Linked DNA regions of Homo sapiens. The protein of the gene in region 2 purifies or fractionates together with the protein of the main gene of each other region. This does not show direct contact. Each region holds a gene or a part of one and is shown on either strand. Other genes may lie near its edges. The genes, in order: DDX19B and LGALS7B.

What was found.
Region 1: the proteins of LGALS7B (region 2) and DDX19B purify together in Homo sapiens (affinity purification with mass spectrometry; 2 studies listed by BioGRID). This does not show direct contact.

Annotation. Positions count from the first base shown.
Region 1 is NC_000016.10:70,303,635-70,319,561, reverse strand, and holds part of DDX19B (ATP-dependent RNA helicase DDX19B), read right to left. Parts: intron 6,954-15,927; coding exon 6,905-6,953; intron 4,661-6,904; coding exon 4,607-4,660; intron 3,923-4,606; exon of another isoform or gene 3,594-3,922; coding exon 3,458-3,593; exon of another isoform or gene 3,420-3,457; intron 2,307-3,419; exon of another isoform or gene 2,189-2,306; intron 2,067-2,188; coding exon 1,974-2,066; intron 1-1,973. UniProt on the Homo sapiens protein: ATP-dependent RNA helicase involved in mRNA export from the nucleus.
Region 2 is NC_000019.10:38,781,829-38,797,826, reverse strand, and holds LGALS7B (galectin-7), read right to left. Parts: upstream 8,628-15,998; 5' UTR 8,601-8,627; coding exon 8,595-8,600; intron 8,212-8,594; coding exon 8,123-8,211; intron 7,139-8,122; coding exon 6,937-7,138; intron 6,248-6,936; coding exon 6,134-6,247; 3' UTR 6,073-6,133; downstream 1-6,072. UniProt on the Homo sapiens protein: Could be involved in cell-cell and/or cell-matrix interactions necessary for normal growth control. Pro-apoptotic protein that functions intracellularly upstream of JNK activation and cytochrome c release.

The DNA.
Region 1 (15,927 bases), on a different chromosome or scaffold from region 2:
GCATTATATGCAGAATTGTATATAATCATATAAAATATAGGATCAATCTGTATTAAAATTCCATCATGCTCTAGAATCTTGTACTCAGAATGTGATCTGAAACCAGCAGCATCAGCATCACCTGCAAGCTTATTAGAAATGTTGACACTCAGTCCCCACTTAGACCTACTAAATTCAGACCCTGCATTTTAATAAATGTCTATGAGATTTGTATGCCTATGAAAGTGGGAGATGCCCTGCACCAGGAAACCACCTTAGTAACTGTATTATTCAGGTCTCCTAGAGCTGTTTGGCTTCTATTATATTTGACACAATAGCTTTTATATATCAATACAATGAAATCATGGTGCATATACGATATAAACTTATATTTACCAACATAGGAAGATGATCATATAATTAAAAAACACAGCATGTAAAACATTATTTATATGTCACCTTTTTTTGTTTGTTTGTTTGAGATGGAGTCTCGCTCTGTTGCCCAGGCTGGAGTGCAGTGGCGTGATCTCGGCTCACTGCAAGCTCCGCCTCCCAGGTTCATGCCATTCTCCTGCCTCAGCCTCCCATGTAGCTGGGACCACAGGCGCCCACCACCACGCCCAGCTAATTTTTTGTATTTTTAGTAGAGATGGGGTTTCACCGTGTTAGCCAGGATGGTCTCGATCTCCGGAGCTTGTGATCCACCTGGCTAGGCCTCCCAAAGTGCTGGGATTACAGGCATGAGCCACTGCTCCCGGCCATATGTCAACTTTTTTTTTTTTTTTTGAGATGGAGTTTTGCTTTTGTTGCCCAGGCTGGAGTGCAATGGCATGATCTCAGCTCACTGTAACCCCTGCCTCCCAGGTTCAACCGATTCTCCTGCCTCAGCCTCCCAAGTAGCTGGGTTTACAGGCGCCTGCCACCACACCAGCTAATTTTTTTTTTGTATTTTTAGTAGAGACAGGGTTTAGCCATGTTGGTCAGCCTGGTCTCAAACTCCTGACGTCAGGTGATCCACCTGCCTCGGCCTCCCAAAGTGCTGGGATTATAGGCATGAGCCACCACCCCGGTCATATATGTCAACTTTTTTAAAAGTTATATGTTTACATAGAGAAAAGTCTAGAAGTCTCCACTCCAAAATGTTAATAATGTGGGGAGAGGGAGATTACAGATGATTTTTTTTCTTTTCTTTTTTTTTTTTGCATTTTTGAGATGGAGTCTCACTCTGTTGCCCAGGCTGGAGTGCACTGGTGTGATCTCAGCTCCCTGTAGCCTCCACCTCCGGGGTTCAAGCGATTCTCGTGCCTCAGCTTCCCGAGTAGCTGGGACTACAGGAGCACACCATGACACCTGGCTAACTTTTGTATTTTTTTAGTAGAGTCGGGTTTCATCATGTTGGCCAGGCTGGTCTCGAACACTTGACCTCAAGAGATCCTCCTGCCTTGGCCTCCCAAAGTGTTGGGATTACAGGCATGAGCCACTGCACCTGGCCCCCTTGACTTTTTTTTTTTTTTTTTTGAGACAAAGTCTCGCTCTGTCACCCAGGCTGGAGTGCAGTGACATGATCTCGGCTCACTGCAACCTCTGCCTCCCGGGTTCAAGCAAATCTTGTGCCTCAGCCTCCTCTTTTTCTCTTTCGAGACAGGGTCTTTCTTTGTTGCCCAGAATGGAGTACAATGGTATGATCATGGTTCACTGCAACCTCAAACTCCTGGGCTCAAGTGATCCTCCTGCCTCAGCCTCCTGAGTAGCTGGGACTACAGCTGCATGCCACCATGCCTGGCCAAGTTTATAACGTTTTTTTTTTTGTTGAGACAGGGTCTTGCTACATCGCCCAGGCTGGTCTTGAACTCCTGGCCTGAAACGATCCTCCTGCCTTGCCTCTCAGGTTGCTGGGATTATAGGCATAAGCCACCTTGCTGGCCTGTGAAAATAATAATAGTTTTCAAAAATAGAAAATCTAAAATGAAATGGAGTTGTAATAGGACACATACGGCTCAGCAAGCATCAGTGGCAATGCGTTCTCTTGTATCTTGGATGGACGATTGAAACCCATGGCATAGACTCCTTGGAGAAGCTGTGGTTTCCTAGAAAAACAGTTAAAGATGAAAGTCACAGTCTCTTTGGTTGAGGAAAGCAGCAAAATATCTGGAGGATTTTTCTCTTTTACTGTTTACACATAGTTTTTTGTTTGTTTGTTTTTGAGCAGAGTCTCGATCTATTGCCCAGGCTGCAGTGCAAAGGTGCAGTCTCGGCTCACTGCAACATCCACCTTCCGGGTTCAAGCAATTCTCGTGCCTCAGCCTCGCGAATAGCTGGGATTACAGGTACATGGCACCATGCCCCGCTAATTTTTTTTTTTTTTTTTTTTTTTTGAGACAGAGTCTCGCTCTGTCACCCAGGCTGGAGTGCAGTGGCGCGATCTCGGCTCACTGCAACCTCCGTCTCCCAGGTTCACGCCATTCTCCTACCTCAACCTCCTGAGTACCTGGTACTACAGGCACCCGCCAACATGCCCTGCTAATTTTTTTTGTATTTTTAGTAGAGATGGGGTTTCACCATGTTAGCCAGGATGATCTCAATCTCTGGACCTCGTGATCTACCTGCCTCAGCCTCCCAAAGTCCTGGGATTACAGGCGTGAGCCACCGTGCCTGGACTAATTTTTGTATTTTCAGTAGAGACAGGGTTTCACCATGTTGGCCACGCTGGTCTTGAACTCCTGACCTCAAGTGGTCTGCCGGCCTTAGCCTCTCAAAGTGCTGGGATTACAGGCATGAGCCACTATGCCTGGCCTACACATAGTTTGTAATCAACAATAATTGAGCTGTGGTGAACTGAATACATGTTAGTACAGCTAAAGCTTTTATCCATCATCTGGAAATTTTACTAAATATCCCAAAGCATCTACAGTATTTATGTATATTTTTTAGATGGAGTCTGGTCTCGCTATGTTGCCCAGGCTGGTCTGCAACTCCTGGCCTCAAGTGATCCTCTCACCTTGGCCTCCAAAAGTGCTGGGATTACAGGTGTGCACTACGGCACCCAGCTAAATTCTTTTATAAAACTTGGTTAGCAGCTGGGTGCGGTGGCTCATGCCTGTAATCTCAGCGCTTTGGGAGGCCGAGGCAAGTGGATCATGAGTTCAGGAGATCAAGATCAGCCTGGCCAACATAGTGAAACCCCATCTCTACTACAAATACAAAAAGTAGCCAGGCGTGGTGGTGTGCACCTGTAATCTCAGCTACTTGGGAGGCTGAGGCAGGAGAATCACTCGAACCCAGGAGGCGGAGGTTGCAGTGAGCCGAGATCGCGCTACTGCACTCCAGCCTGGGCAACAGAGTGAGACTCTGTCTCGAAAAAAAAAAAAAAACTTGGTTAGCTAAAACTGCTCTGTTGTGGTCAAAAGATATCTATAACAGACCTAGGATCTCTATTTCAGTGCAAAGGGGAAGAGTCAGAAGGTGAATAAATACTCACAGCCGAAGCTCTTCAAAAGACTTCACCGAGTACAGAGGGGAGTTTGGATCCCGCTGCAGGACTTCCACTTGGTTTGTGTTATCAACAAGGTTGCTTCTGATCAGCTTGTTGAGTAAGGACTGGGCAGCTCTGTCCTCTGTCAGGAAAAAGAAAGCAAAGAATTTTAAAAAGTCCTTGAAACCTACCAGGCGTTTACTCTAATTCAACTGCCATTTGTATTTTAAATAATAATGTACTGAACATTCAAATTCAAGGTACGTCATAGTTTTGACTTATAAATTAAAATAGTTTTATTAAAGAAAAAAGTTATGATACATCACCCATTTAGGCCTCATATTCTTTTCCAGACTCTATTCTAACAGCCCTCTTTTCCTGCAGTTATCTATTCCTCCTATCCAGACCCACATATTTACTCCCCAATTTGTACTATATATAAACCTAAAGTAATTAATGTAGCAATCACAACAATAAAAAAAAAAACAGGAATTAACAAAGTCTGTACCTTAATATTGGACAAGTTGGTCTCGTCATCCATGTCAAATGTGTCAAAATAACATTAAGCTTAATTTTACTGGACAATAGAGATGCAACTGAAAATTTTTTATAATGCCCTATTCAACTGTTCAGTTGTTAAATGTAAAATTTCTCTAAACGTAAACCATTAGAACTCCTTCACCTACTGACTATTTATATTGAACTTTTTTTTTTTTTTTTTTTTGAGACAGAGTCTCGCTCTTTCGCCCAGGCTAGAGTGCAGTGGCTCGATCTCGGCTCATGGCAAGCTCTGCTTCCCGGGTTCATGCCATTCTTCTGCCTCAGCATCCCAAGTAGCTGGGACTACAGGCGTCTGCCACCATGCCCGGCTAATTTTTTTTTTTTTTTTTGTATTTTTAGTGGAGACGGGTTTTCACCGTGTTAGCCAGGATGGTCTCGATCTCCTGACCTCGTGATCTGCCCACCTCGGCCTCCCAAAGTGCTGGGATTACAGGTGTAAGCCACCGTGCCCGGCCCCTATATTGAACCTTTATGCTAGCACTGTATCGCCTATTAAAGTCAAGCCAAACTGGGTATAAAAATGAAGCCTCATAACAATCCACTTTCTTAGAATGTAGAAGCTTGTTATTATATAAAGCTCCACGGCTGTGTTACCTTTCTCTTCTTCATCTGTCTTCTCTGCATTGGCATTGGTCTTGACAACAGCACCTTTATAGACACAAAGTGGCCATCATTCAAAATCGCATCCCATACCCAACAGTTGAGACAATTCAAATTCTATGACACTAGAAGTTTTTGTAAAGGCCTGGGGAGCAAAAAATAAATGAGGAAACCGAGCCGCTGATAAAAACATTTTATTGTCCCTAAATAAACAAAGGTGTAAAACACTGTTGCTCACATATATATATATATAGATAGATATTTATTTTATTATTTATTTATTTTTGAGATGGAGTCTCGCTCTGTCGCCCAGGCTGGAGTGCAGTGGTGCGATCTCAACTCACTACAAGCTCTGCCTCCCAGGTTCACGCCATTCTCTTGCCTCAGCCTCCCGAGTAGCTGGGATTACAGGCACCCGCCACCACGCCCAGCTAATTTTTTTTGTATTTTTAGTAGAGACAGGGTTTCACCATGTTAGCCAGGCTGGTCTTGATCTCTTGACCTCGTGATCCGCCTGCCTTGGCCTCCCAAAGTGCTGGGATTACAGGCGTGAGCTACCGCGCCCGGCCTCTGTTGCTCATATTCTTTCCTATTCTAGGTCTCCTCTCCGTACCTCAAAACCTGTTATTTCCCTCATTGAATCAATACTTCTTAAATATTATAGAAAGATTAGAGCAATTAGTGATCAGAAACCACCTTGATGCTCAACAGAGGAATATCTATGCAAATCGTATTTTATCAATAGGTGAACACAATAATGCCATTAAAATTCATGTATATAACAAATGAGCAGTAAGACCAACAAAAAAAATTCATGCATATAAATTTTTTTTTTCTTTTTTTGAGATGCAGTCTCACTCTTACCCAGCCTGGAGTGCAGTGGTGCGATCTCAGCTCACTGCAACCTCTGCCTCCCAGGTTCAAGAGATTCCACTGTTTCAGTATCCTGAGTAGCTGGGATTACAGGGGTGCACCACCACACCTGGCAAATGTTTGTATTTTTAGTAGAGATGGGGTTTCACCATGTTAGTCAGGCTGGTTTCAAACTCCTGACCTCAGGTTATCCGCCAGCCTTGGCTTCCCAAAGTGCTGGGATTACAGGTGTGAGCCACCACACCCGGCCTATAAATTGATTAATATAAATTTATAGTCGAATGATACTGTGGTTATATAAAATCATACAAAAAAGATTTAAGTGAATTTTGAGAAAGGCAAATGTTACATTTCCTTCCTGTAATATTAAGTACATCAACAATAATTTAATGGAAATCTTAACTTTGGATAAATATGATTTCAGAATAATTAGGATAGGTAAACTGTCAGATTGCTCATACTTTGTCTATCTCATCCCAAATTGAGAACATTAAGAAAAAAATTAGTCTTTGTCAATGTAGTCCGATGGTTAGTAATTAGTCCCACTTAAGTAGCCTCATTCTTTGTTCCCCCCACACCCTTGCTATCAGTGTGCAATCCTCATTCTTGTATTAAAAACACTTTGAAACCAGGTGTAATATCTCACTCCTGTAATCCCAGCACTTTGGGAGGCTGAGGCGGGAGGACTGCTTGAGCCTAGGAGTTAGAAACCAACCTGGGCAACACAGGGAGTCCTCATCTCTATAAAAAAACAAAAATACCTGGGCACAGTGGCTCACACCTATAATCCCAGCACTTTGGGAGGCCAAGGCCGGTGGATCATGAGGTCAGGAGATTGAGACCATCCTGGCTAACACAGTGAAACCCCATCTCTACTAAAAATACAAAACATTAGCCAGGCGTGGTGGCAGGTGCCTGTAGTCCCAGCTACCCGGGAGGCTGAGGCAGGAGAATGGTGTGAAGCCGGGAGGTGGAGCTTACAGTGAGCCGAGATCGAGCCACTGCACTCCAGCCTGGGCAACAGAGCGAGACTCTGTCTCAAAAAAATAAAAAATAAAAAATAAAAATTAGTTGGGCGTAGTGGGTTGTGCCTGTAGTCCCAGCTACTCAGGAGGCTGAGGTGGAGGATCACTTGAGTCTGGGAGGTTGAGGCTCCAGTGAACCATGATTGAACCACTGCACTCCAGCCTGGGCAACAGAGCAAGACCCTGTCTCTTAAAAAGTAAACAGAAACAAAAAAATAAATAAAAACACTTTGGTCATACAATCCAGTTTGTTGATTTACAAATCAAATGGTACCAGTATCTGCCAATGCCCTGCCTGGTACAAATACAAATTTTTTTCCAGACAGTTGTTATGCCAAAACAAAAATACTGAAGGAAATCACATTTGTTTTCAAACTAGCTATTAGTTACTTACCATTGGTATCTGGTTTGATTTTCTCTTCCTTAAGATGCAAGTTGCTCAACTAAATGGAGAATATGGGGGAGGGGGAAAGTGTCAGGAAAAGCACTTAAAAAGATTTGGAATCAACAGAGCCTCCCTAATGAAGCTGGGGATAAAATAGCCATTCTCAAGGTATATTCATTAGGACCAATTCATTGGGTTGTTCCGTTTACTAAATGTCTGATGAGAATAAACAAAATTTCCCGTAAATACATCGGTGGAAAAAAATGCTCCAAATCTGTACCTTCTACTTAAAATTCTGTGAGAGAATTGTAATTTGTGAGTTTGCTTAATGCCCTGATTATAAACTTTCTCTCTTTGTAGAATATCATTAGAGTTGTCATTCTCTCATATTTCTTTTGTGTGTGGGGGGGAATCGCTGCATTCCAAATCATATTTCAAACAAGAGGAAATTTAAAGAGATTTTGAAAAATGCAGTCATACTTTGGAGAACACTGGGAAGGGAGGACTGTGATGAAAAGCATCTGTAAAGCCAGGTGCGGTGGCTCGCGCCTGTAATCCCAACACTTTGGGAGGCTCAGGCAGGCAGATCACGAGGTCAAGAGATCGAGACCATCCTGGCCAACATGGTGAAACCCCGTCTCTACCAAAAATACAAAAATTAGCTGGGCGTGGCGGTGCATGCCTGTAGTGCCAGCTACTTGGGAGGCTGAGGCAGGAGAATCGCTTGAACCCAGGAGGCGGAGGTTGCAGTGAGCCAAGATCACGCCACTACACCCCAGCCTGGCAACAGAGTGAAACTCCGTCTCACAAAAAAAAAAAGAAAAGAAAAGAAAAGAAAAGCATCTGTGGGTAGGAATCAGTCATACTGCAGGATACGTTAGAGCCGTAAGACCACAGTATGCTGATGTGCAGCCTCACATTCAAGTCACCTTTTGCTGGTGTCTGATACTGTAGTTGGGAACAGCCTGAAGCATTGTGGCACACTGTGTAATTAAAATACCCACTGGGCTGAAGTGGAAATAGAAAGGAAAGAGACATTTCAAAGAATAATTACTAAGACTTTGATCAAATACTGTATATTAGGGATATCCTAGCAGGTCTTATCTCCTCTATTAGAATGCAAATACCTTCCTGACAGGGCCTATTTCGTTTTCTACTGCTCCTTGAGGAGCAGGGCTACCCCACAGGAAATGTGCCCAGAGTAGCATATTTCTATTTTTGGCCTTTGGATGTAGTACAGAGCAAAGTAAGTGCTCTAGTCGTAAATTTTTTGTTTGTTTGTTTTTTGAGACAGAGTCTTGCTCTGTCACCTGGACTGGAGTGTAGGGGCGCGATCTCAGCTCACTGCAAGCTCTGCCTTCCGGGTTCACGCCATTCTACTGCCTCAGCCTCCCGAGCAGCTGAGACTACAGGCGCCCGCCACCACGCCCGGCTAATTTTTTGTATTTTCTTTTTTTTTAAGAGATGGGGTTTCACGGTGTTAGCCAGGATGGTCTTGATCTCCTGACCTCGTGATCCGCCTGCCTCAGCCTCCCAAAGTGCTGGGATTACAGATATGAGCTGCCACGCCCGGCCTTTCTAGTCGTACATTTTTATTAAAAACAAAACAAAACAAAAAAGCCTTTTTTTTTTTTTTGAGACAGAGTCTCGCTCTGTTGCCCAGGCTGGAGTGCAGTGGCCTGATCTCAGCTCACTGTAAGCTCCGCCTCCCGGGTTCATGCCATTCTCCTGCCTCAGCCTCCGGAGTAGCTGGGACTACAGGCGTCCGCTACCACCCCCAGCTAATTTTTTTGTATTTTTAGTAGAGGCAGGGTTTCATCATGTTAGCCAGGATGTTCTCAATCTCCTGACCTCGTGATCTCCCTGCCTCGGCCTCCCAAAGTGCTGGGATTACAGGCATGAGCCACCGCACCTGGCCAAAAAAGACTTTTTTAAAGGTCAGAAAGCATCTGTAAGTCTTGGACCCCAGCACAGGGATTAGATAGATGGAAAGTCTGGCGTGAGTAAGTAACCTTTCAAGCTAAAGCCAACCCTAATCATAAAATATCAAGCAGGGCCTAAGACATCATCTAGTAAAAAGAAAATGAAAATCACAACCTAATGGTTCTTTCTTTTTTTTCTGCAGACGAGGTCTCACTCTGTTGGCCAGGCTGGAGTGGTGCAGTGGCATGATCATGGCTCATTGAAGCCTCAACCTCCTAAGGCTCAGGCAATCCTCCTGCCTTAGCCTCCCAAGTAGCTGAGACTACAGGCACTCACCACCATGTCCAGCTAATTTTTTTTTTTTGAGGCGGAGTCTTGCTCTGTTGCCAGGATGGAGTGCAGTGGTGTTATCTCAGATCACTGCAACCTCCGCCTCCTGGGTTCAAACGATTCTCCTGCTTCAGCCTCCCAAGTAGCTGAGACTACAGGCATGCACCACCATGCCCAGCTAATTTTTGTATTTTTAATAGAGACAGGGTTTCACCACATTGGCCAGGATGGTCTCAATCTCTTGACCTCATGATCCGCCCACCTTGGCCTCCTAAAGTGCTGGGATTACAGGCATGAGCCACTGCGCCCAGCCTGCCCAGCTAATCTTTTATTGTAGAGTTGGGATCTTACTGTGTTGCTCAGGCTGGTCTTGAGCTCCTGGGCTCAAGCGATCCTCCTGCCTCAGCCTCCCAAAGTGCTAGAATTATAAGTGTGAACTACGCATTAGGCCGCATTTCTGTTGTCCCTCTAAGTCCAAGAACAGGCGAAAGGGGAAGGAGGGTAGAGAGGAGAGAACAAAAAAATGTTTTAATTGGTGGTTTGTTGAGAATGGAGGAGCCCCATTTCTATTTCTCTTTTTTTTTTTTTTTTTTTTTGAGACGGAGTCTTGCCCTGTCGCCCAGGCTAGAATGCAGTGGTACGATCTTGGCTCACTGCAACCTCCGCCTCCTGGGTTCAAGCAATTCTCCTACCCCAGCCTCCCAAGTAGCTGGGATTACAGGCGTGTGCAACTACGCACAGCTAATTTTTGAATTTTTAGTAGAGACGGGGTTTCACTATGTTGGTCAGGCTGGTCTCGAACTCTCGACCTCGTGATCCACCCGCCTCGGCCTCCCAAAGTGCTGGGATTACAGGCGTAAGCCACTGCACCCAGCCAGGAGCCCCATTTCTTTTTGTTTGTTTGTTTGTTTTGTTTTTTGAGATGGAGTCTCGCTCTGTCGCCCAGGCTGAAGTGCAGTGGCGTGATCTTGGCTCACTGCAAGCTCTGCCTCCCAGGTTCACGCCATTCTCCTGCCTCAGCCTCCGGAGTAGCTGGGACTACAGGCGCCTGCCACCATGCCCGACTAACTTTTTATATTTTTAGTAGAGACGGGGTTTCACCGTGTTAGCCAGGATGGTCTCGATCTCCTGACCTCGTGATCTGCCCGCCTCGGCCTCCCGAAGTGCTGGGATTACAGGCATAAGCCACCGCGCCCAGCCTCCCATTTCTATTCATGGAAATGGACAAGAAGTTTCTGGTCCCTTTCTGCTTTGGTGTTGGGAAAGAGGAAAAAGAAAGGGAACACATTAAAGAGATTAGAAAAAAGCAACTTAACAAAAAGGAAACCATTCAACTGGAGAAAGCCGACTGAAAAACAAACAAAAAAAAAAAGAAATCATTATAAAGCAGTAAAAATCCTTCACTAATTCTGAAGGATAAAGAATACACTAATGGGGGAGGGCAGTGGGGGACAGCATTAGGAAAAAGAGCTAATACATGTGGGGCTTAATACTTAGGTGATGGGTTGATAGGTGCAGCAAACCACCATGGTACATGTTTACCTATGTAACAAACATGCACATCCTGCACATGCACCCTAGAACTTTAAAAAAAAAAAAACAGCTGGGCACAGTGGCTCACACCTGTAATCCCAGCACTTTGGGAGGCTGAAATGGGAGGCTCCCTTGAGGCCAGGAGTTTGAGACAAGCCTGGGCAACATAGTGAGACTCCACCTCTATAAAGATTAAAAATAAAAATATTGACAGGGCATGGTGGCTTGTGACTTGAATCCCAGCACTTTTGGAGGCCGAGGAGGGAGGATCCTTGGAACTCATGGAGTTCGAGACAAGCCTGGGTAACATAGTGAGACCCCATCTCCTAAAAAATAAATAAATAGGCTGGGCATGGTGGCTCATTCCTGTAATCCCAGAGCTTTGGGAGGCTGAGGCAGGCTGATCACCTGAGGTCAGGAGTTCGAGACCAGCCTGACCAACATGGTAAAACCCTGTCTCTACTAAAAAAATATAAAAAAAATTAGCCAGGTGTGGTGGCGCAGGAGGCTGAGGCAGGAGAATCACTTGAACCTGGGAGTTGGAGGTTGCAGTGAGCCAAGATCACACCATTGCACTCCAGCTTGGGCAACAGAGTGAGACTCTGTCTTAAAAATAAATAAATAAATAGACCGGGTGTGGTGGCTCACGCCTGTAATCCCAGCACTTTGGGAGGCCGAGGCAGGTGGATCACCTGAGGTCAGGAGTTCGAGACCAGACTGGCCAACATGGTGAAAACCTGTCTCTACTAAAAATATAAAAACTAGCTGGGCATGGTGGTGGGTGCCTGTAATCCCAGCTACTCAGGAGGCTGAGGCAGGAGAATTACTTGAACCCAGGAGACAGAGGTTGCAGTGAGCCGACATGGTGCCACTGCACTCCAGCCTTGGCAGCAGAGTGAGACTCCGTCTCAAAATAAATAAATAAATAAAAATAAATACATAAATAAATAATAAATTTAAATAAATTTTAAAATAAAATAAATAAATATATTAGCTGGGCATGGTGGTATGTGCCCATAGTCCCAGCTACCAGGGAGGCTGAGGTGGGAGGATTGCTTGAGCCCAGGAGTTCCAGGTTACAGTGTGCTATGATCTTGCCACTGCATTCCAGCCTGGGTGACAGAATGAGACCCCATCTCTATTAAAAAAAATACACACATATATACACACACACACATATATACATACACACACACACACACACATATATATACATATGGCCAGATGTGATGGCTCACGCCTGTAATCCTAGTACTTTGGGAGGCCGAGATGGATGGATTGCCTGAGCTCAGGAGTTCGAGAGCACTGTGGGCAACATGATGAAACCCCATCTCTACTGAAATATGAAAAATTGGCTGGGCATGGTGGCACGTGCTTGTAATCCCACCTACTTAGGAAGCTGAGGCATGAGAATCGCTTAAACCCGGGAGGCAGAGGTTGCAGTGAGCCGAGATGGTGCCACTGCACTCCAGCCTGGGAGACAGTGCGAGACTCTTGTCTCCAAAAAATAAAAAATAAAAAAAGACATATTATTTCATAGACAATATTAATCTTAAAGATTAATGATGCAGCTGCTTTGGAAAACATCCTGGCACTTTCTCAAAAGTTAAATACAGAATTACTATATAATCCAGCAGTCCCACTTCTAGATATATACCCGAGTATTGAAACTATATGTCCACACAAAAACTTGTACATTAATCAAAAGCAGTATTATTCATAGTAGCTAAAAAGTAGAAATAATCCAAATGTCCAGAAATTGATAAGTGGATAAATAAAATGTGGTATATCCACACAATGGAATATTATTTGGCAACAATAAGGAATAAAGTACTGATACATGCTACAACTAATGAACCTTAGTTCATTATACTAAATAAAAGGAGCCAGTCACAAAGGATCACATACCGTATGTTCCCATTTATATGAAATGTTTAAAAGAGGCAAATCTAAAGAGACAGAAAGTAGATTAGTGATTGCCTAGAGCTGGGGAGTTTGTAGGGAAACAGGGAGTAACTGCTAATGTGTACAGAGTTTCCTTTTGGGGTGATGAAAATGTTCTAAAATTGACTGTGATATAAGCTACACACTTCTGAATACACCAACCATCAGTGAACTGTACACTTTAATCTCACCATAATGTCATAATAATAGGGTCTCAAGATTCTGTTTCATAAAATGCAGGAATTTGTTGTTGTAAGGTTAATAAAATGGCTAGTTTGGGCCTGCTAAAAACAGCAAGAGTTAATCATTTCATACCTGAGTTTTTATTATCACTGGATTCATTATTATGAGTTTCTGTTCTATCCAAAAGATAACTCTATGATGCAAACTCAAGCCAAAAAGAAAATGTCAAAGCTACCTACTCCTAACAAACCCTCTTAGGCACATTAATAGGTTAAAACAATGACAATTTAACCTGACCTGAATGGCCGGGTGCAGTGGCTCATGCCTATAATCCCAGCACTTTGGAAGGCCAAGGCAGGTGATAGCTTGAGCTCAGGAACTTGAGACTGCCCTGAGCAACATGGTGAAACCCTATGTCTACAAAACATACAAAAATTTGCCAGGTGTGGTGGTGCACACCTGTAGTCCCAGCTACTTGCAAGGCTGAGGTGGGAGGACTGCATGAGCCTGGGAGGTCAAGGGTGCAGTGAGCCATGTACACACCACTGCATTCCAGCCTGGGTGACAAAGTAAGACTCTATTTCAAAAACAACAACAACAACAAACAACAACAACAACAACAACAAAACTGACCTAACAAGAAGTTAGTTAAAATAGTCAAAACTCTCAGAACTAAAAAATAAAAAAAACAGGCCGGGTGCTGTGGGTCATGCCTGTAATCCCAGCACTTTGGGAGGCCGAGGCGGGCGGATCACGAGGTCAGAAGATCGAGACCATCCTGGCTAACACGGTGAAACCTCATCTCTACCAAAAAAATACAAAAAAATTAGCTGGGCATGGTGGTGGGCGCCTGTAGTCCCAGCTACTCGGGAAGCTGAGGCAGGAGAATGGCGTGAACCCAGGAGGTGGAGCTTGCAGTGAGCCGAGATTGCGCCACTGCACTCCAGCCTGGGCGACAGAGTGAGACTCTGTCTCAAAAAATAAATACATAAAAATTTAAAAAATAATAATTAAAAAAACAAAAAACCTCTCAGAACTACTTGAAACACATATTTATCTCTACGTTGACTAATGATGTGTTTTTTTTCTAAGTGTATATTGTGCCTTGAGATATTGGCTAATAAAAATATGAAGCCAGCACACACAAGCACAGGAAAGCATTATTTCATTTTTATCTCAGCCTTTATTACTTTTTTATTTGCTTTACAATGTACATAATATATTTAATAAAACAGTAAAGTATGCAATTTCTAAATAGATATTTACATATTGAGAGTGAATGATCAAAAGTTTCTTTGCAACAAATAACAAACTACACAGTTCATTTACTCAGTTAACAATGCCTGCCAGGTTAGGCATGAGAAATGCTCAAATGGATAAGGACCACAGTTAAGGGAGGGGATGCCATAATGAAAACAGAAGCATTAAGTGGAAGCAGGTATTCTGGGTCCTGAGACCTCCCTCACCCTTTCCTCCACCTAGATTCCAGAACACTGAGTCAGACCTCCACCATCTAGGCAGGAGTTTAGAGGATCCCTCTCTGCAAAATCTGGCCAGACCGGGAGGAAAGTTCTCAGGATGCTGACATAGACCACTAAAGATATATAGTTAAGGTCAGAATAGACAAGCCCCACTCATGTGTTTACAGCTTCCACTCAACTTTTTAGTCACTCACTCTTAAATATGAGTGGCCAAGCAAGGATTACAGACATCTGAGAAACAGTCATCACAAAAAAGTAGACACTGAAATATATGGATAAAACACGCCTCACATGAAACAGAGACTGAGCAGAGAGAAGAAGAAAAATATCCTCCAAATGATGAGGATATTATGACCATGAAAGCCGTACAGGGTATTGTCTGTAAAAAAGGAACAGTAAAGGAAGAAGAAAAAAGTTCCTGAAATTAAAAATAAGAAAGTAGAAGTGAAAATGAAATATACCAGACAGTACTTGAGAAAATCTCCCAGGAAATATAGAAAGAAAGAAAGAAAAAAAAAAGAGACAAAGATGAAAAACAGAAGAAAAAAGAAAACCAAAGGACTTTTAAACGAATGGTGCTGGAACAATTAAGACAGCTCTGGCCAGGAGTGGTGGTTCACGCCTGTAATCCCAGCACTTTGGGAGGCCAAGGCGGATGGATCACCTGAGGTCAGGGGTTTGAGACCAGCCTGGCCAACATGGTGAAACCCTGTCTCTACTAAAAATACCAAAAGTAGCCAGGCTTGGTGGCAGGCGCCTGTAATCCCAGCTACTCGGGGGACTAAGGCAGGAGAATCGCTTGAACCTGGGAGGTGGAGGTTGCAGTGAGCTGAGATCACGCCACTGCACTCCAACCTGGGGGACAAGAGCAAGACTTTGTCTCAAAAAAAAAAAAAAAAAGACATCTCTGTGAAAAAGATGAACAGATGAACCTCGGCCAGGCACGGTGGCTCACGCCTGTAATCAAGCACTTTGGGAGGCCGAGGCGGGCAGATCATGAGGTCAGCAGTTTGAGACCAGCCTGGCCAATATGGTGAAACCCTGTCTCTACTAAAAATACAAAAATTAGCTGGGCATAGTGGTGGGTGCCTGTAATCCCAGCTACTAGGGAAGCTGAGGCAGGAGAATTGCTTGAACCCCGGAGGCGAGGGGTTGCAGTGAGCTGAGATTGCGCCACTGCACTCCAGCCTGGGAGACAGAGCCAGACTCCGCCTCAAAAAAAAAAAGATGAACCTCAATGCATACCCCTTATTAGAAAAAATTTAACTCAAAATGGAAAATGGATTACAGACATAAATGTAAAATTTAAAACTATAAGACTTCTAGAGAACACAGGAGAAAATCTTTGTGGCCTTGGATAAGGTGTATATCTTGGAACACAAAAAGAACTAATCATCTAAAAATTGATAAATTAGGCCGGGCGCGGTGGCTCACGCCTGTAATCCCAGCACTTTGGGAGGCCGAGGTGGGCGGATCCCAAGATCGGGAGGTCGAGACCATCCTGGCTAACATGGTGAAACCCCATCTCTACTAAAAATACAAAAAAAAATTAGCCTGGCGTGGTGGTGGGCGCCTGTAGTCCCAGCTACTCGGGAGGCTGAGGCAGGAGAATGGCGTGAGCCTGAGAGGTGGAGCTTG
Region 2 (15,998 bases):
GGGAGGGAGGTGGGGGGGTCAGCCCCCCGCCAGGCGAGACGCCCCGTCCGGGAGGGAGGTGGGGGGTCAGCCCCCTGCCCGGCCAGCCGCCCGGTCCGGGAGGTGAGGGGCGCCTCTGCCCGGCCGCCCCTACTGGGAAGTGAGGAGCCCCTCTGCCCGGCCACCACCCCGTCTGGGAGGTGTACCCAACAGCTCATTGAGAACGGGCCATGATGACAATGGCAGTTTTGCGGAATAGAAAAGGGGGAAAGGTGGGGAAAAGATTGAGAAATCGGATGGTTGCTGTGTCTGTGTAGAAAGAAGTAGACATGGGAGACTTTTCATTTTGTTCTGTACTAAGAAAAATTCTTCTGCCTTGGGATCCTGTTGATCTATGACCTTACCCCCAACCCTGTGCTCTCTGAAACATGTGCTGTGTCCACTCAGGGTTAAATGGATTAAGGGCGGTGCAAGATGTGCTTTGTTAAACAGATGCTTGAAGGCAGCATGCTCGTTAAGAGTCATCACCATTCCCTAATCTCAAGTACCCAGGGACACACACACTCTGCCTAGGAAAACCAGAGACCTTTGTTCACTTGTTTATCTGCTGACCTTCCCTCCACTATTGTCCTGTGACCCTGCCAAATCCCCCCTCTGCGAGAAACACCCAAGAATGATCAATAAAAAAAAAATACAAAAATACAAAAATACAAAATATTAAAATAAAATAAAGAAATAGTGCTCGCTTCAGCAGCACATATACTAAAATCTGGAATGATGCAGAGAAGATTAGCATGGCCCCTGCGCAAGGATGACATGCAAATTTGTGAAGTGTTCCATATTTTTTGGCCAGGTGTGGTGGCTCACGCATGTAATCCCAACACTTTGGGAGGCCGAGGCAGGCGAATCACAAGGTCAGGAATTTTTGAGACTAGCCTGGCCAACGTGGTGAAACTCTGTCTCTACCAAAAATACAAAAAATTAGCCGGGCATAGTGGTGGGTGCCTGTAATCCCAGCTACTCGGGAGGCTGGGGCAGGAGAATCGCTTGAACCTGGGAGGCAGAGGTTGCAGTGAGCCGAGATCGCGCCACTGCACTCCAGCCTGGCAACAGAGTGAGACTCCTCTCAAAAAAAAAAAAAAAAAGAAGAAGAAGAAAAGAAAAAAAGAAGATGGTGATGGATGGATAGAAGGGTGGATAGATGGATCTATGTGTGATAAAGCAAGTTGAGTAAAATGTTATATAGAATCTGGTTAGGGTATATGAGGTATTCATAGAATAATTCTTTTAACTTTTCTGCATGTCTGAAAAAATTCATAATAAAATGTTGGGGGAAACCTTTGCATACAAACTTTGCAAACATTGTATCATACAATGATATGAACTGTAAATTTTTTAGGAGTTAGAATGGTAATGAGGTTTTGTTTAAAAAGAGAGCCTGCCAGGCGTGGTGGCAGATGCCTGTAATCCTAGCTACTTGGGAGGCTAAGGTGGGAAGACTGTTTGAACCTGGGAGTTTGAGACCAGCCTGGGCAGCATAGTGAGACCCCATCTCAAAAATAAAAATTAAAAAATAAATATCATTTAGAATTATACACATATTTATGGATAAGATTATATAACACCTTTTAAAAATCCAATTTAAAATGGGCAGAAAATTTCGATAAACATTTCTGCAAAGAAGATATATAAACGGCAACCCATGTCATTAGGGAAATGCAAATCAAAACCACATGACATATCTCTTCACCAAGTGGTGAAGCCAACCTATTAGGATGGCTATAATAAAAAAGACAGATAGGTCAGGTGTGGTGGCTCATGCCTGTAATCCCAGCACTTTGGGAGGCCGGGGTGGGAGGATCACTTGAGGCTAAGAGTTCAGGACCAGCCTGGGCAACATAGCAAGAACCTGTCTCTACAAAAAATTTTTAAAAATTAGCCAAGCATGGGGACGCACACCTATAGTTCCAACTAATTGGGAGGCCTGAGGTAGGAGAATTGCTTGAGCCCAGGAGGTGGAGGCTGCAGTGAGCCATGATTTCACCACTGCACTCCAGCCTACACAACAGAACAAGACCCTGTCTCAAAAAAAAAAAAAAGACAATAACAAGTGTTGGAGAGAACATGGAGAAATAGGAACACATATGTTGCTGATGGTAATGTAAAATGTTACAGTTACTTTGGAAAATGGTTTGGCAGTTCTTTGAAACGGAACTTAAAAGAGTCATGTGACCCAGGAATTCTTTTTTTTTTTTTCTTTTTTGAGACGGAGTTTCGCTCTTGATGCCCAGACTGGAGTGCAGTGGTGCGATCTCGGCTCGCTGAAACCTCCACCTCCTGGGTTCAAGCGATTCTCCTGCCTCAGTCTCCCAAGTAGCTGGGATTACAGGCATGCACCACCACGCCCGGTTAATTTTGTATTTTTAGTAGAGATGGGGCTTTTCCATGTTGATCAGGCTGGTCTCGAACTCCTGACCTCAGGTGATCCATCTGCCTTGGCCTCCCAAAGTGGTGGAATTACAGGCATGAGCCACAGCACCTGGCCTGACCCAGAAATTCTCCTAGGTACTTACCCAAGAGACATGAAAACATGTTCACACAATAGGTTCATAGCAGCATTATTCATAATAGCCAAGATGTAGGAACAACCCAGATATCCATTATTCACCATGATGAATGGGTAAACGCGTATATTCGATCCACACATTGGAACAGCATTCAGCCATGAAAAGGAATGAAGTGCTGATGCATGCTATGACATGGACAAACCCTGAAAACATGATGCTCCGTGGAAGAAGCCAGATATACAGGGCCACATATTGTATGATTCCACGTGTGGAAAACAAGCAGATTCATAAATCCATACAGCTGGAAAGTAGGTTAGTGATTGCCAGGTGCTGGGGGAGGGGCAAGTTGGGGAGTGACTGCTTATGGGTATGGGGTTTCTTTTAGTTGTTCTTTTTTGTTTTGTTTTGTTTCTGAAACAGGGTTTCACTCTGTTGCTCAAGCTGGAGTGCAGTGGAGCGATCACGGCTCTCTGCAGCCTCGACCTCTCCAGCTCAAGCCATCCTCCTAGCTCAGCCTCCCGAGTAACTGGGACCACAGGTGTGTACCACCATGCCCAGCTAAAATTATTTTTTGTAGAGATGAGGTCTCCCTATATTTCCCAGGTTGTTTTTTTTTTTTTTTTTTTTTTTTTTTGACACAGAGCTTTGCTCTGTCACCCAGGCTGGAGTGCAATGGTGCTATCTGCTCACTGCAGCCTCCGCCTACCGGGTTCAAGCAATTCTCCTGCCTCAGCCTCCCACGTAGCTGGGATTACAGGTGCGTGCCACCACGCCTGGCTAATTTTTTGTATTTTGAGTAGAGATGTGGTTTTGCCATGTTGGCCAGGCTAGTCTCGAGCTCCTGAGCTCAAGTGATCCGCCCATCTCAGCCTCCCAAAGTGCTGAGATTACAAGTGTGAGCCACAGCGCCCGGCCTCAGGCTGGTCTTGAACTCCTGGGCTCAATCAATCCTTCCGCTTCAGGCTCCCAAAGTGCTGGGATTACATCTGTGAGCCAAGGTCTTTTGAGATGATAAAAATGTTCTAAAATTAGATTGTGTTGATGGATGCACAACCTTGTGAATATACTGAAAAACATTGACTTGTATACTTTGAATGGGTGACTTGTATAGCATATGAGTTATATGTCAATAGAGCTGTTACAGAAAGATCCAGGAGGATGGGGAGGAGAGAAGGGAAGCTGAATCATAAATTCTAAATTTCTTTGAAGACAAACTTAATAAAGAAGGATTTAGGTTGGGCACCATGGCTCACACCTGTAATCCCAGCACTCTGGGAAGCCTCGGTGGGAGGATCGCTTGAGCTCAGGAGTTTGAGTCCAGGAGTTCAAGACCAGCCTGGGCAACATAGCAAGACCCTGGCTCTACAAACACCCGCCCCCCCCAAAAAAATTAGCCTGGCACCATGGCACGTGCCTGTAGTCTCAGCTACTTGGGGGGCTGAGGTGGGAGGATGGCTTCAGCCTGGGAGGTTGAGGCTGCAGTAAGCCCTTATCCACAACTCCACTCAGCCTGGGCAACAGAGCAAGACCCTGCCTCAACAAAAAAAATTTTTTATTTAAAAATTTTTGATGAACTGTTACCGATGGAGGGTGTCCAGGTGCTTGGTCTCTTGAATGAAGAATTGGGCAAAACGCACAAAGCAAGGAAATAATGAAGCAACAAAGGCAGAGATTTATTGAAAATAAAAATACACCCCACAGTGTGGGTGCGGCGGAGCATAGGGGCTCAAGGGCTGGGTTACATAATTTTTTGGCATTTAAATACCTTCTAGAGGTTTCCATTGGTTACTTGCTGTACGCCCTATGTAAATGGAGAGGATGTTTCCTGTCATAGCTGAAGTGTGAATCAGCCTTATGTTCCCTGCCTCCAGACCCTATTTTCCTGCCTCAGAACCATTTGAGAATAAGTCGCAAACATGCTGCACCACCAAATACCTAACTCTATTTTCCACAAACAGGGACAAGTTCCCACATGTACACTGTCAGTCAACGGTGAAATTCAGGACATTAACACGGCTGGATCGCTACTGTCTAATCCGAAGACCCAACCACATTCACCACTTGTGCCAATAATGTGTGTTCATTTCACTGTATGTTTTGAAATGTATACCAGATGCATATATTATCTTTATGAAAAAACTGATATTTTAAAAACACTCGACACAGCCAAATGAAATAAGAGCGAACTCATTCAAGCAGGAGCCCCGGAGGACTGGGAGAAACCGGCCTCTCACAGGCCTCCTCACCAGAGCTGGGCTCGCTCCTGGCCACCGCCCACCCACTCCAGGGCCGGACACGGGAAGGGACCGCCCAGACCGAAGGTCGCAGGGGCCTAAAACCCCGGGTCCTGAATGCGCCTGGGACCTGCAGCGAACCTGGCGTCCCCACCTGACTCCAGAATCAGATTCAGGCCAGGCCAGGAACCACCCCAGCTTCCTGCATCCGCCTTGGTCCAGGCAGCAATGCGGAAGGCGGACGCCAGGGGGTCGGAGGCTCAAGGGCGGGGATCGAGACCCAAGGCCTGGCGCGCCCACCAAGATGTGGCTCTGCACTAAGGTTCCGGAACAGCCGGCCCTGAACACCCACGTGCAGCTTCCGATCGCAGCCCTGGCCTGGCTCCTCGGTCCCCGGTTGAGAGACCCGCGACCGCTGCAGGGTGCCTCGCCGAGGGTGGGGGCTCGAGGCGCACAGTGCTCCCAGCCTCTCCCACCCCAACCCCGCCATTAAGGGAAGCCCCAGCGACGCCCTGAACCCTGAAAGTCACACTGGGGCCGGGGCTGCACTTGGCGTCCGCTTCCCCTCCCGTCACAGTGACCAGGGCTAGGACCGGGGTCCGGGCCGTCGGGGAGAGCGGAGGGCGCGTGGGAATGGGGCTCGCTGCGCCAGGGAAAACCCACGCCGTCCTTCGAGTCCTCCCAGCTGTTCCGCAGAGCCGGGGCCGCTGCCATCGCGTCTGCCCCGAGGGTGCGCAGGCGGGTACCTGTCCCGACTCGGGGAACAGCGGGAGCCCGGAGACGCCCGTCGGGCTTCCCAGCCCCACCTGGGACGTCTCTAGGGGCGGGAGGCCAGGAGAGAAGAGGGTGGGAGAGATGAGCTGCAGGGGGATACGGGACCCAGGGACCCGGGATCTTATAACACGCTTTCCACCCGTAGGATTGGGGCCCACAAATGACCAGAAAGGTGGGACTCATTCGCCCCCTTTGCAGATGGACCCATGTTGGCGCCCCTTAGATCTGCAGTGGGGGCACCAGGACCTGCGGTGAGCGCCTCTGCGCCCCAAACGCCAGCAGGTCCGCCCGACCGCATTCCCAGCTGGCTTGCTTTGCACAAATGCTGCGTCAGGGCACGCCCCACACCCACTCCTTCCCAGATCGCGACCCTCACGCCTTCGCAGACAGAAAGTGTCCTAAGCACAGGCAGGCTCAGAGCCCGCCTCCGCCTCGGATTCGCTGTGTGGCCCGGAGCCAGTATCTTGGCCTCTCTGGGTCTCAGTTTGCTCATCTCAGTGAATGGGACACAGACACAGTCGCGCTGCGGGCTAACGCTTTATTTGCCAGCCAAGGCCCCGGGCCCGCCTGGGCTTCTGCTCAGAAGATCCTCACGGAGTCCAGCTGCACGTCCCCGCCCACCTCCACCAGGCGCACGCGCGCCAGCGGCAGGCGGTGGCGGAAGTGGTGGTACTGGGCGTCCCCAACCACGGCCTGCAGGGGAGGGTCGGTGGTGAGGATTCCGGAGGCCCGTGCTGGGTGGCCCTGGGGAAATCACTCATCCCCTCTGGGCCTCAGTTTCCTCACTGGGAAAATGGGGCTATTGTTCATTCTAACTCTTGCGTGAGGATCAAACGAGTTGACTGTGTGGCACAGTAAAAAGCGGCTTTTTTAGTGCTGGTAATGGATATTCTCATTTCAGCGACCATTACCCGCTATTAAAGCGCAGAGGAGGGAGGTGAATTCGCGTAAGCTGTGGGTGGTGGAGGATCTGCCGCCACTCCCACCCGCCAATCCTTGCTAGGACGAGTTCCTGGGCGCTGTTTCCAACCCATCCCTCCCCATGCCTCAAACCCCGGACCTCAGGAAGGAATGAACTGGGAGTAGGGTCTGGGATGGCGAGTCTGGGCCACGCCTTCCCGCTAGGACGCCCACCCCTTGGACACTTGGCTGGTGCTCGCCTCGTCCTGACCCTGCTGTCTCTCTGTCCCTCGGACCCAAGTGGGAGTTGTTTAGGCGAGAGAGAGGGTCGAAGGACACCCTTCTCCGCCTTGGCCACGACTTCCCTACCCCCCTCACCCCGCCCCGAACCTCCCTGCCTTCCACCAATAGCCTGGCTTTGCCCAACCCTCTGCTCCAGGGACCTAAGTCTTGGCGTCCACGCCCCTGTCGCAGAGACGCACCTTGAAGCCGTCGTCTGACGCGATGATGAGCACCTCGAAGGGCTGCCCGCGCTGGAAAGGAACGCCCGGCCCGCGCTCCTCGCGGCCCCAGGAGCCTTGCTCCTTGCTGTTGAAGACCACCTCCGACGTGTCCAGCCGGGGGTTGAAATGCAGGGCGGCATCGGAGCCCTGCTCCTCCCCGCACAGCAGGTTTACATGGAACCTGGAAGAGGGGGATGGTGGCCGTCAGGGCTCAGAAACCACCCAGACCAAGAAATGTTGAGGGTGAGGAATACCGATGTCTACAATTTACTTTGAATGAATAAGTAAATGAAATGTTGGCTGGGTGCAGTGGCTCACCCTGTAATCCCAGCACTCTGGGAGGTGGAGAAGGGAGGATCGCTTGGGCCCGGAAGTTAAAGACCAGCCTGGGCAACATAGCGAGACCCCACCTTACAAAAAAACGAAAGAACAAACAAAACATAAACCGCCCAGACCAAAGTGAAGGTCTTATGGGCTGGCACTCCCCATTCCCAGAGTACCCCCAAATTAACAGGGACCTGAAGACAGGCACACACCGCAGAAGGAGAGGTGGGCGACTAATGACCAGGGAGCTTAGATTCCCAAGGCAGCCAAAATATCATGAGGCCCTTGGCAGAAACCTACCCAGACCAAACTCACTACGCTTAGGGCAGGGTGCCCTCATTTCCAAAGAGCCTGGGAGCTGCCCAGGAGGTCTGGGTGATAGCCAGGGTGCTCCTGATGCTCAGGGAACCCTCAGCTTCTACAGGACAAAGAATAATACCAGGAACCCCAGTATTTCCAGGGTACCTCAGAATCCAGAAGGCCCGAAGTTCCTTAGCCAGGAAGTCAAAGGATGGCTTGGCAAGGACTCCCAGGGTCCAGGGTGTCTCCAGGACTTGGAGTATTTCCAGAGTTCCCTGGGACTCAGACATGGAAGTCATAGGACTATATCTAGGAACCCTGAGATTACCCAGGGACCTCAAATGCTTAGGGAAACTTAGGGACCCCAGCCACAAAGGCACGGGGGCAAATACGAATACATCAGATTTGAGGTCAGAAATGGCCTCGGACTCCTAGCCTGGTGGATACAGGTGGCCTCGGGCCCCTACTTCTGGACTGCAAAAATTGGGAGTCAGCTGATCCTGAGACCTGTACCCTTTACCCCTAGGGCCTGGGGCCTCACCTGCTGGCATTGGGAGGAACCAAGCCGCGAATTCTCAGCACCGTGCCAGGGCGGATGCCCTCGGGCAGTGAGGACTTGTGGGGGACGTTCTGCAAGAGTGGGGTGCAGGGGCCACTGTGAGCCGGTGAGACCGAAGGAGGGAGGCAGAAGGTGGGTCACCCCTCAGAGGAGCCGACCAGGGCTGAGACTGGCAGAAATCAGTGGAAGAGGAAAGGGTGGCGGAGAGGCAGGAAAGAGACCAGAAACAGACAGGGAAACAGATGGGGAGAGCAACAAAGACAAACAGAAAGATCCTCAAAGAGGGCCCCAGAGGAAGCCACAAAGAGGTAGAGGGGACAGTCGGGATGGGGGTTACCCGGAGGCCACAGCCCAGGCCAGTCCGTGGCACACTCACTGCCCACTTGCTCCTTTGAAAGAGGAGCCCCCAGCCCCCTCCCTGCTTGGCCCCGCCCCGGGCCCCTGGAGCACTCACGGACATGGCTGGGACCGGGTTGGGCAGCCGTGGTGGTGGGGCCTGCTGGGGACCTTAAATAAAAGCAGGGCGGGGCTGGCCCTGATGACTCACCCCACCCCTTCCCACCCACCACCCACACCTGGCACGGACCCTGGCCCTGGGGCAAGCCTGGCGAAGTGGGAGTGGCGCCTCTTCTTGGGGGCCCTGATCCCCCCATCACCCAGAGCCCGGGTGCACTGCCCCTCTCCTAGGAGCTGATAATAAGAGCCACCGCCCCTCCACCCCTGTCTTCCCACTGCCTGGCACACAGGAGAGTCTCTCATGCTCATTTTATCCACAGACATGTTGGGTCCTGAGAAGCCAAGCCCAGCGGGAACTCTAGACCCTTCTCTCCAGCTGAGAACCTCCTGCCTAGACTGGAAATGTCTGCGCTGAAATCCCTGCTTCTAAGTCTCCAGTGGAACAGCAGCCACAACAACGACGATAGTGCCAGACAGGGGGACTTCACAGGGTCGGAGGGCGGCCTGGTTGGCTCAGTGCTGCACCCCTGGGTCCTGGAGTGTGCCGGGTTCATGGGAAGTCCTCAGTCAGGAGGGGTGAAAGGAGGGGATCCACTAGGACTACGCTTGTCATTTCCCAGGCCCTTGGGCTGCCCAGGATATGCAGGAAATCACTGATTGGGACCCCACCATTCCAACAGAGAGAAGCATGGGTCACCCCCATTGTACAGAGAAGGAGGCTGAGGCTGGGATGGGAAGTGATTTTCCACAAGCCGGGCAGGACCCATTGCCCCAACCTCTGCCTTTCCTCACCTCTGGGCGTGCCTCTCCTGTGGGTTCTGTCTCTGGGGCTGGCTGTCTGGCTCTGTTTGTCTCTGTCTATAACTGTCTACCGCGTATTCCTGTCCCACTTCTCTCCTTCAAGTCTCTCTTGTTCCTCCTTCCAGGACTGTTACCATCTTCCCACCAATTTTGCAGGTCAGGATGAGGTGGGTTTTAGGGTGGTGGGTGGCCTAGCATTCCATCACCACCTAGATCAAAAGCAGAGCAAGGTGGGGACCCTCCCGCCAGCCCCAATATAGCCCGCTTGGGCCCAAGACTCTAGAAGAGAATCCAGGGTTGGGGAAGTAGACTGGGGGAGGCGGGGGGGGGGGGGGGGGCGGGCAGGACTGAAATCTGTTTCTGAAAGGCAGGGATGGTGTGGGAGCTGAACAGAAACCACTCCTGGCTGGGCATGGTAGCTCACGCCTGTAATCCCAGCACTTTGGGAGGCCAAGGTAGGTGGATCACTTGAGGTCAGGAGTTCAAGACCAGCCTGGCCAACATGGTGAAACCCCTTCTCTATAGAAAATACAAAAAATTGGCCAGGTGTGGTGGTGGACACCTGTAATCCCAGCTACCTGGGAGGCTGAGGCAGGAGAATTGCTTGAGCTGGGGAGGCGGACGTTGTAGTGAGCCGAGATCACACCACTGCACTGCAGCCTGGGCGACAGAGCTAGACTCTGTCTCAAAAAATAAAAATAAAGCCTGTAATCCCAGCACTTTGGGAGGCCGACGCGGGTGGATCACGAGGTCAGGAGATCGAGACCATACTGGCTAACACGGTGAAACCCCGTCTCTACTAAAAATACAAAACAAAATTAGCCGGGCATGGTGGCGGGCACCTGTAGTCCCAGCTACTCGGGAGGCTGAGGCAGGAGAATGGCATGAACCCGGGAGGCAGAGCTTGCAGTGAGCCGAGATCGCGCCACTGCACTCCAGCCTGGGCAACAGAGCAAGACTCCATCTCAAAAATAAATAAACAAACAAACAAATAAATAAATAAAAATAAACCACTCCTAGCAATGCAGCAGCCCTCCTGGACCTTTTCCACTCCCCACCCAACTCCTGCACTCCTGCCCCACCCAGCAGGCTGCTGAGAGGCCTGGGCAGAGGCAGGCTGGCAGTGGAAAGTTTGGGTGGAGACACCAGACCCAGAACCATCCTCCACCCTCTTTGTCCCAGGCCCCCAGCCTCTTGCCCCCTCCCCACACACTCCAAGGCACCAAGGTGGGGGACCAGTTCCTAGGGACGTGAGCTCAGAGAGGGAGGCTTGCAGCTGCATTTCAGTGGGAGCTGCAAGCACCCCCATTCTGCAGAAGACAAAACTGAGGCCTAGACAGGGACAGCTTCTCAGCCAAGGAAGCGGCCAGGCCCTGGGCTCCACAGGGGTGTCTGTGCCAAGGACATGTCATGGGCACGGACAGAGAGGACAGCAGGGTGTCCGGTGATCACACCACCAGCGCAGCTCAGTTAGTTCCCGAGAATGTTCCCTTGAATGGTGAACTCCATCATTCTAACATTATTGACCATTCTAAAGAACACACTCCTCACATTACTGACGCCTCATGCTGTGTACCGTGTTTCCCAGGAACTCAACTTTTTAGTGATCGCTTCACTGTGGCTGGATGTAACTTCACATGCAGCCAACATGCTGCAAGTCCCAACGTGCCTTTGCTGACTGGCCAAAGCTTTCCATTCACTCTATTATTAGCCTGAAGTCCTGACTCCTTTCTGGTAACAGATCTGCATCCTTGATTGCATCCTTGATGGGTTTTTGTTGTTGTTGTTGTTGTTTGTTTGTTTGTTTTTGAGACAGAGTTTTGCTCTGTCACCCAGGCTGGAGTGCAGTGGCACGATCTCGACTCACTGCAACCTCTGCTTCCCAGGTTCAAGTGATTCTCCTGCCTCAGCCTCCTGAGTAGCTGGGATTACAAGCATGTGCCACCACTCATGGCTAATTTTTGTATTTTTAGTAGAGACAGGGTTTCACCATGTTGGCCAGGCTGGTCTTGAACTCCTGCCCTCAAGTGATCCACCCACCTCAGCCTCCCAAAATGCTGGGATTACAGGCATGAGCCACTGCATCCAGCCCTTGATGAGTTCTTATTCAATTGTGTTATCTTTCTCATTAGTTGTGCAATAATTTTTTTTTTTTTTTTTTTTGAGACAGGGTCTGGCTCTCTCTGTGATCATGGCTTACTGCAGCCTTGGCCTCCTGGGCTTGGGAATCCTCCCGCCTCTGGAGTAGCTTGGACTACAGTTGCACGCCACCATGCCCAGCTTTTTTTTTTTTTTTTTTTTTTTTCCTAGAGAGGAGGTCTCACCATGTTGCCCAGGCTGGTCTCAAACTCCTGGGCTCAAGCGATCCTCCCACCTTGGTCTCCTAAAATGTTGTGATTACAGGCCTGGCCACGGTAATATTTGTGTGTCTTTTTTCGGTTTTAAATAACTAATGTGTTTATTTCCCAATTGTTATTTCATTGAGGTATTTTTCCCATTAAATAAAAGGTTCAGATTTTGTTGTTGTTGTTGTTGTTTTGAGACAGGGTCTTGTTCTGTCGCCCAGGCTGGAGTGCAGTGGTATGATCTCAACTTACTGCAACCTCTGCCTCCCAGATTCAAGTGATCCTCCCACCTCATCCTCCTGAGTGGCTGGGACTACAGGAGTGTGCCACCACACCTGCCTAATTTTTGTATTATTTTGTACTGATGGGGTTTCGCCATGTTGTCCAGGCTGTTCTCAAACTCCTGGACTCAAGTGATCCACCTGCTTTGGCCTCCCAAAGTGCTGGGATTATAGGTGTGAGCCCCTGCTCAGGGTTCAGATTTTAATGGAATAGTTCAATGAGTTTTGACACATATAGTCACCTGTGTAACCACCTCCCCAATCAAGTTTCCTGGTGCCCCTAGAAACAGTCACTGCTCCTTCTGCCACATGAAGCCACTGTCACTCCTGAGCAGTTAGTAGCCACAAAGTTTCCTTTGATCCATTGTGGTGGCATGTGCCTGTAGTCCCAGCTACTCGGGAGGCTAGGGCAGGAGGATCACCTGAGCCCTGGAGGTGGAGGCTACAGTGACCCAAGATCACACCACTGCACTCCAGCCTGGGTAACAAGGCGGGCGGATCACCTGAGGTCAGGAGTTTGAGACCAGCCTGGCCAATGCGACAGCGTGGCGCCTGCCTGTAGTCCCAGCTACTGGGGAGGATGAGGCAAGAGAATCACTTGAACCTGGGAGGCGGAGGCTGCAGTGAGTTAAGATCGCACCTCTGCACTCAAGACTGGGTGACAGAGCGAGACTCGGTCTCAAAAAAGAAAAAAAAGGCCAGGCGCGGTGGCTTACACCTGTAATCCCAGCACTTTGGGAGGCCGAGGCGGGCGGATCACGAGGTCAGGAGATCGAGACCATCCTGGCTAATACGGTGAAACCCCGTCTCTACTAAAAATACAAAAAATTAGCCAGGCGTGGTGGCGGGCACCTGTAGTCCCAGCTACTCAGGAGGCTGAGGCAGGAGAATGGCATGAACCTGGGAGGTGGAGCTTGCAGTGAGCCAAGATCGCGCCACTGCACTCCAGCCTGGGCAACAGAGCAAGACTCCAAGATTCCGTCTCAAAAAAAGAAAAGAAAAGAAAAGAAAAATAAGTTCATTTGCCGTGAAAATGAGAAAGTGGGTTGGGACAGACTGATTTTTCTGATTTTAGGCCTCTTTCAGGATATAACTTAGTTGAAAAGTAACTAATCGCACACTAAGTGTTTGTAGGGATTTAAAACCCCAGGTTCTGTCAGTGCCATTTTGTTAGTGATATTTTGAGTTATTGTTTTTTGTTTTATTTTTGATTTTTTTTTAGTGATTGCTTCACTGTGGCTGGATGTAACTTCACATGTAGCCAACATACTGCAAGTCCCAATGTGCCTTTGCTGATTGGCCAAGGGTTTGCACATTAACTCTGTTATCAGCCCGAAGTCCTGACTCATTTCTGATAACAGATCTACGTCCTTGATGGGTTCTTTTTTTTTTTTCTTTTGAGATGGAGTCTCACTCTGTTGCCCAGGCTGGAGTGCAGTGGCTCAATCTCAGCTCTGCCTCCTGGGTTCAAGCGATTCTCTTGCCTTGGCCTACTTAGTAGCTGGGATTACAAGCATGCACCACCACTCTTGGCTGATTTTTGTATTTTTAGTAGAGATGGGGTTTCACCATGTTGGCCAGGCTGGTCTCGAACTCCTGACCTCAAGTGATCCACCCACCTCAGCTTTCAAAAGTGCTGGGATTACAGATGTGAACTACTGTGCCTAGCCAAGGGTCTGGCTATGTTGCCCAGGCTAGTCTGGAACCTGGGCTTAAGTGATCCTCCAACTTCTGGCCTCCCAAAGTACTGGGATTACAGGTGTGAGCCACCATGCCCTGTGGTTTTGGTTATTTTTTAAACACAGTGAAGATACTTCAGGGACTCCTTTGGTTTTATATATTAACATTCCAGTGATGAAAATGATACAGGTAAAAATCTTTTTAGTGAATTCTAACTGTTCCCACAGTTAAAGACATTTACCCACTATGTAACTAATTATATCTTTCCAAGTAATTTGGTAACCACCACTGAAGATTGGCTTACTCAGCTTCTAACTCACTCCCCAGCGGGCCCACCTTTTTTTTTTTTTTTTTTTTTTTTTTTTTGAGACAGGGCCTTAATCTATTGCCCAGGCAAGATCATCATGCACTGCAGCCTCAACCTCCTGGGCTGAAGCAATCCTCCTGCCTCAGCCGCCAAAGTGGCTGGGACTACAGGCATGTGACACCACCCCCAGTTAATTTTTTTTTTATTTTATTTTAGTAGAGCTGATGCCTCACTATGTGGCCCAGGCTGGTCTCAAACTCTGGAACTCAAGTATCCTCCTGCCTTGGCCTCCCAAAGTGCTGGGATTACAGGCGTGAACCTCCGCACCCAGCCTGGCCTGCTTTCTTGCATTAGGCAGTTAAAAACTACATTTCCCAGAGTTATTTGTAGCTAGATTCACATAGGACTGGGTTTCCCCAAGCTGAGTTTGCACCCCTGGAAAACTCTTTTTTTGAAGACATGCCCTCGTGGCCAGGTACTGTGGCTCACACCTGTAATCCTAGCACTTTGGAGGCTGAGGTGGGCAGTTTGCCTGAGCTCCAGAGTTCAAGACCAGCCTGGGCAACATGGCAAAACCCCGTCTCTACTAAAATACAAAAAATTAGCCTGGCATGGTGGCACGCACCTGTAATCCCAGCTACTGGGTAGGCTGAGGCACAAGAATCACTTGAATCCAGAAGGTGGAGGTTGCAGTGAGCAGAATTTGTGCCACTGCACTCCAGGCTGGGTGACAGAGCAAGACTGTCCAAAAAGAAAGAGAGAGAGAAGGAAGGAAGGAAGGGAGGGAGGGAGGGAGAGAGGGAGGGAAGGAGGGAAGAGAGAGAGAGATGAAAGAAAGAAAGAAAGAAAGAAAAAGAAAGAAAGAAGGAAAGAAAGAAAGAAAGAAAGAAAGAAGAAAGAAAGAAAGAAAGAAAGAAAGAAAGAAAGAAAGAAAGAAAGAAAGAAAGAAAGAAAGAAAGAAAGAGAAAGCCAGCCAGCCAAGAAAGAAGTGGTCTTGCTCTGTGGTTTTGCCCTGTCACCCAGCCTGGAGTGCAGTGGCACCATCATAGCCCACTGCAGCCTAGAACTCCCAGGCTGAAGCAATTTTCCTCAGTCTCTGGAGTAGTAGGTAGGACAACGGTTGTGTGCTACCACACTTGGCTAATTTTTTCTTTTCTTTTCTTTTCTTTTTTTTTTTTTGAGACGGAGTCTCGCTCTGTCGCCCAGGCTGGAGTGCAGTGGCGTGATCTGGGCTCCCTGCAAGCTCTGCCTCCTGGGTTCATGCCATTCTCTTGCCTCAGCCTCCCAACTAGCTGGGACTACAGGCGCCCGCCACAATGCCCGGCTAATTTTTTGTATTTTTTAGTAGAAACGGGGTTTTACCGTATTAGCTAGGATGTTCTCGATCTCCTGACCTCATGATCTGCCCGCCTCGGCCTCCCAAAGTGTTGGGATTACAGGCGTGAACCACCGCGCCTGACTCTTTTCTTTTTTTGAGACAGGATCTCACTCTGTCACCCCAGCTGGAGTGCAGTGGTGTGATCTCGCCTCACTGCAGCTTCAACAGCCCAGGTTCAAGCAATCCTCCTGCCTCAGCTTCCTAAGTAGCTGGGATTACAGGCATGTGCCACTGTGCCCGGCTTTTTTTTTTTTTTTTTTTTTTTTTTAGAGACAGGGTCTCACTGTGTTGCTCAGGCTGGTCTTGAACTCCTGGGCTCAAGCGATCTACCAGCCTCAGTTGCCCAAAGTGCTGGGATTACAGGTGTGAGCCCCCATGCCTGGCCCAAAACTGGCTCATTTTTAAATTTTTTTTTTTGTAGAGACAGGGTCTTCCTCTGCTGCCCAGGCTGGTCTCAAACTCCTGGCCTCAAGGAGTCTTCCCAGTTCAGCTTCCCAAAGTGCTGGGATTACAGGTATCAGCCACTGCACTCCACCACCTGCAAAACTTAGAAGGTGAAAATGAGGTAACACTTACGGGAGGGAGATGAGCCTTCTGGCTAGTTAGGTGA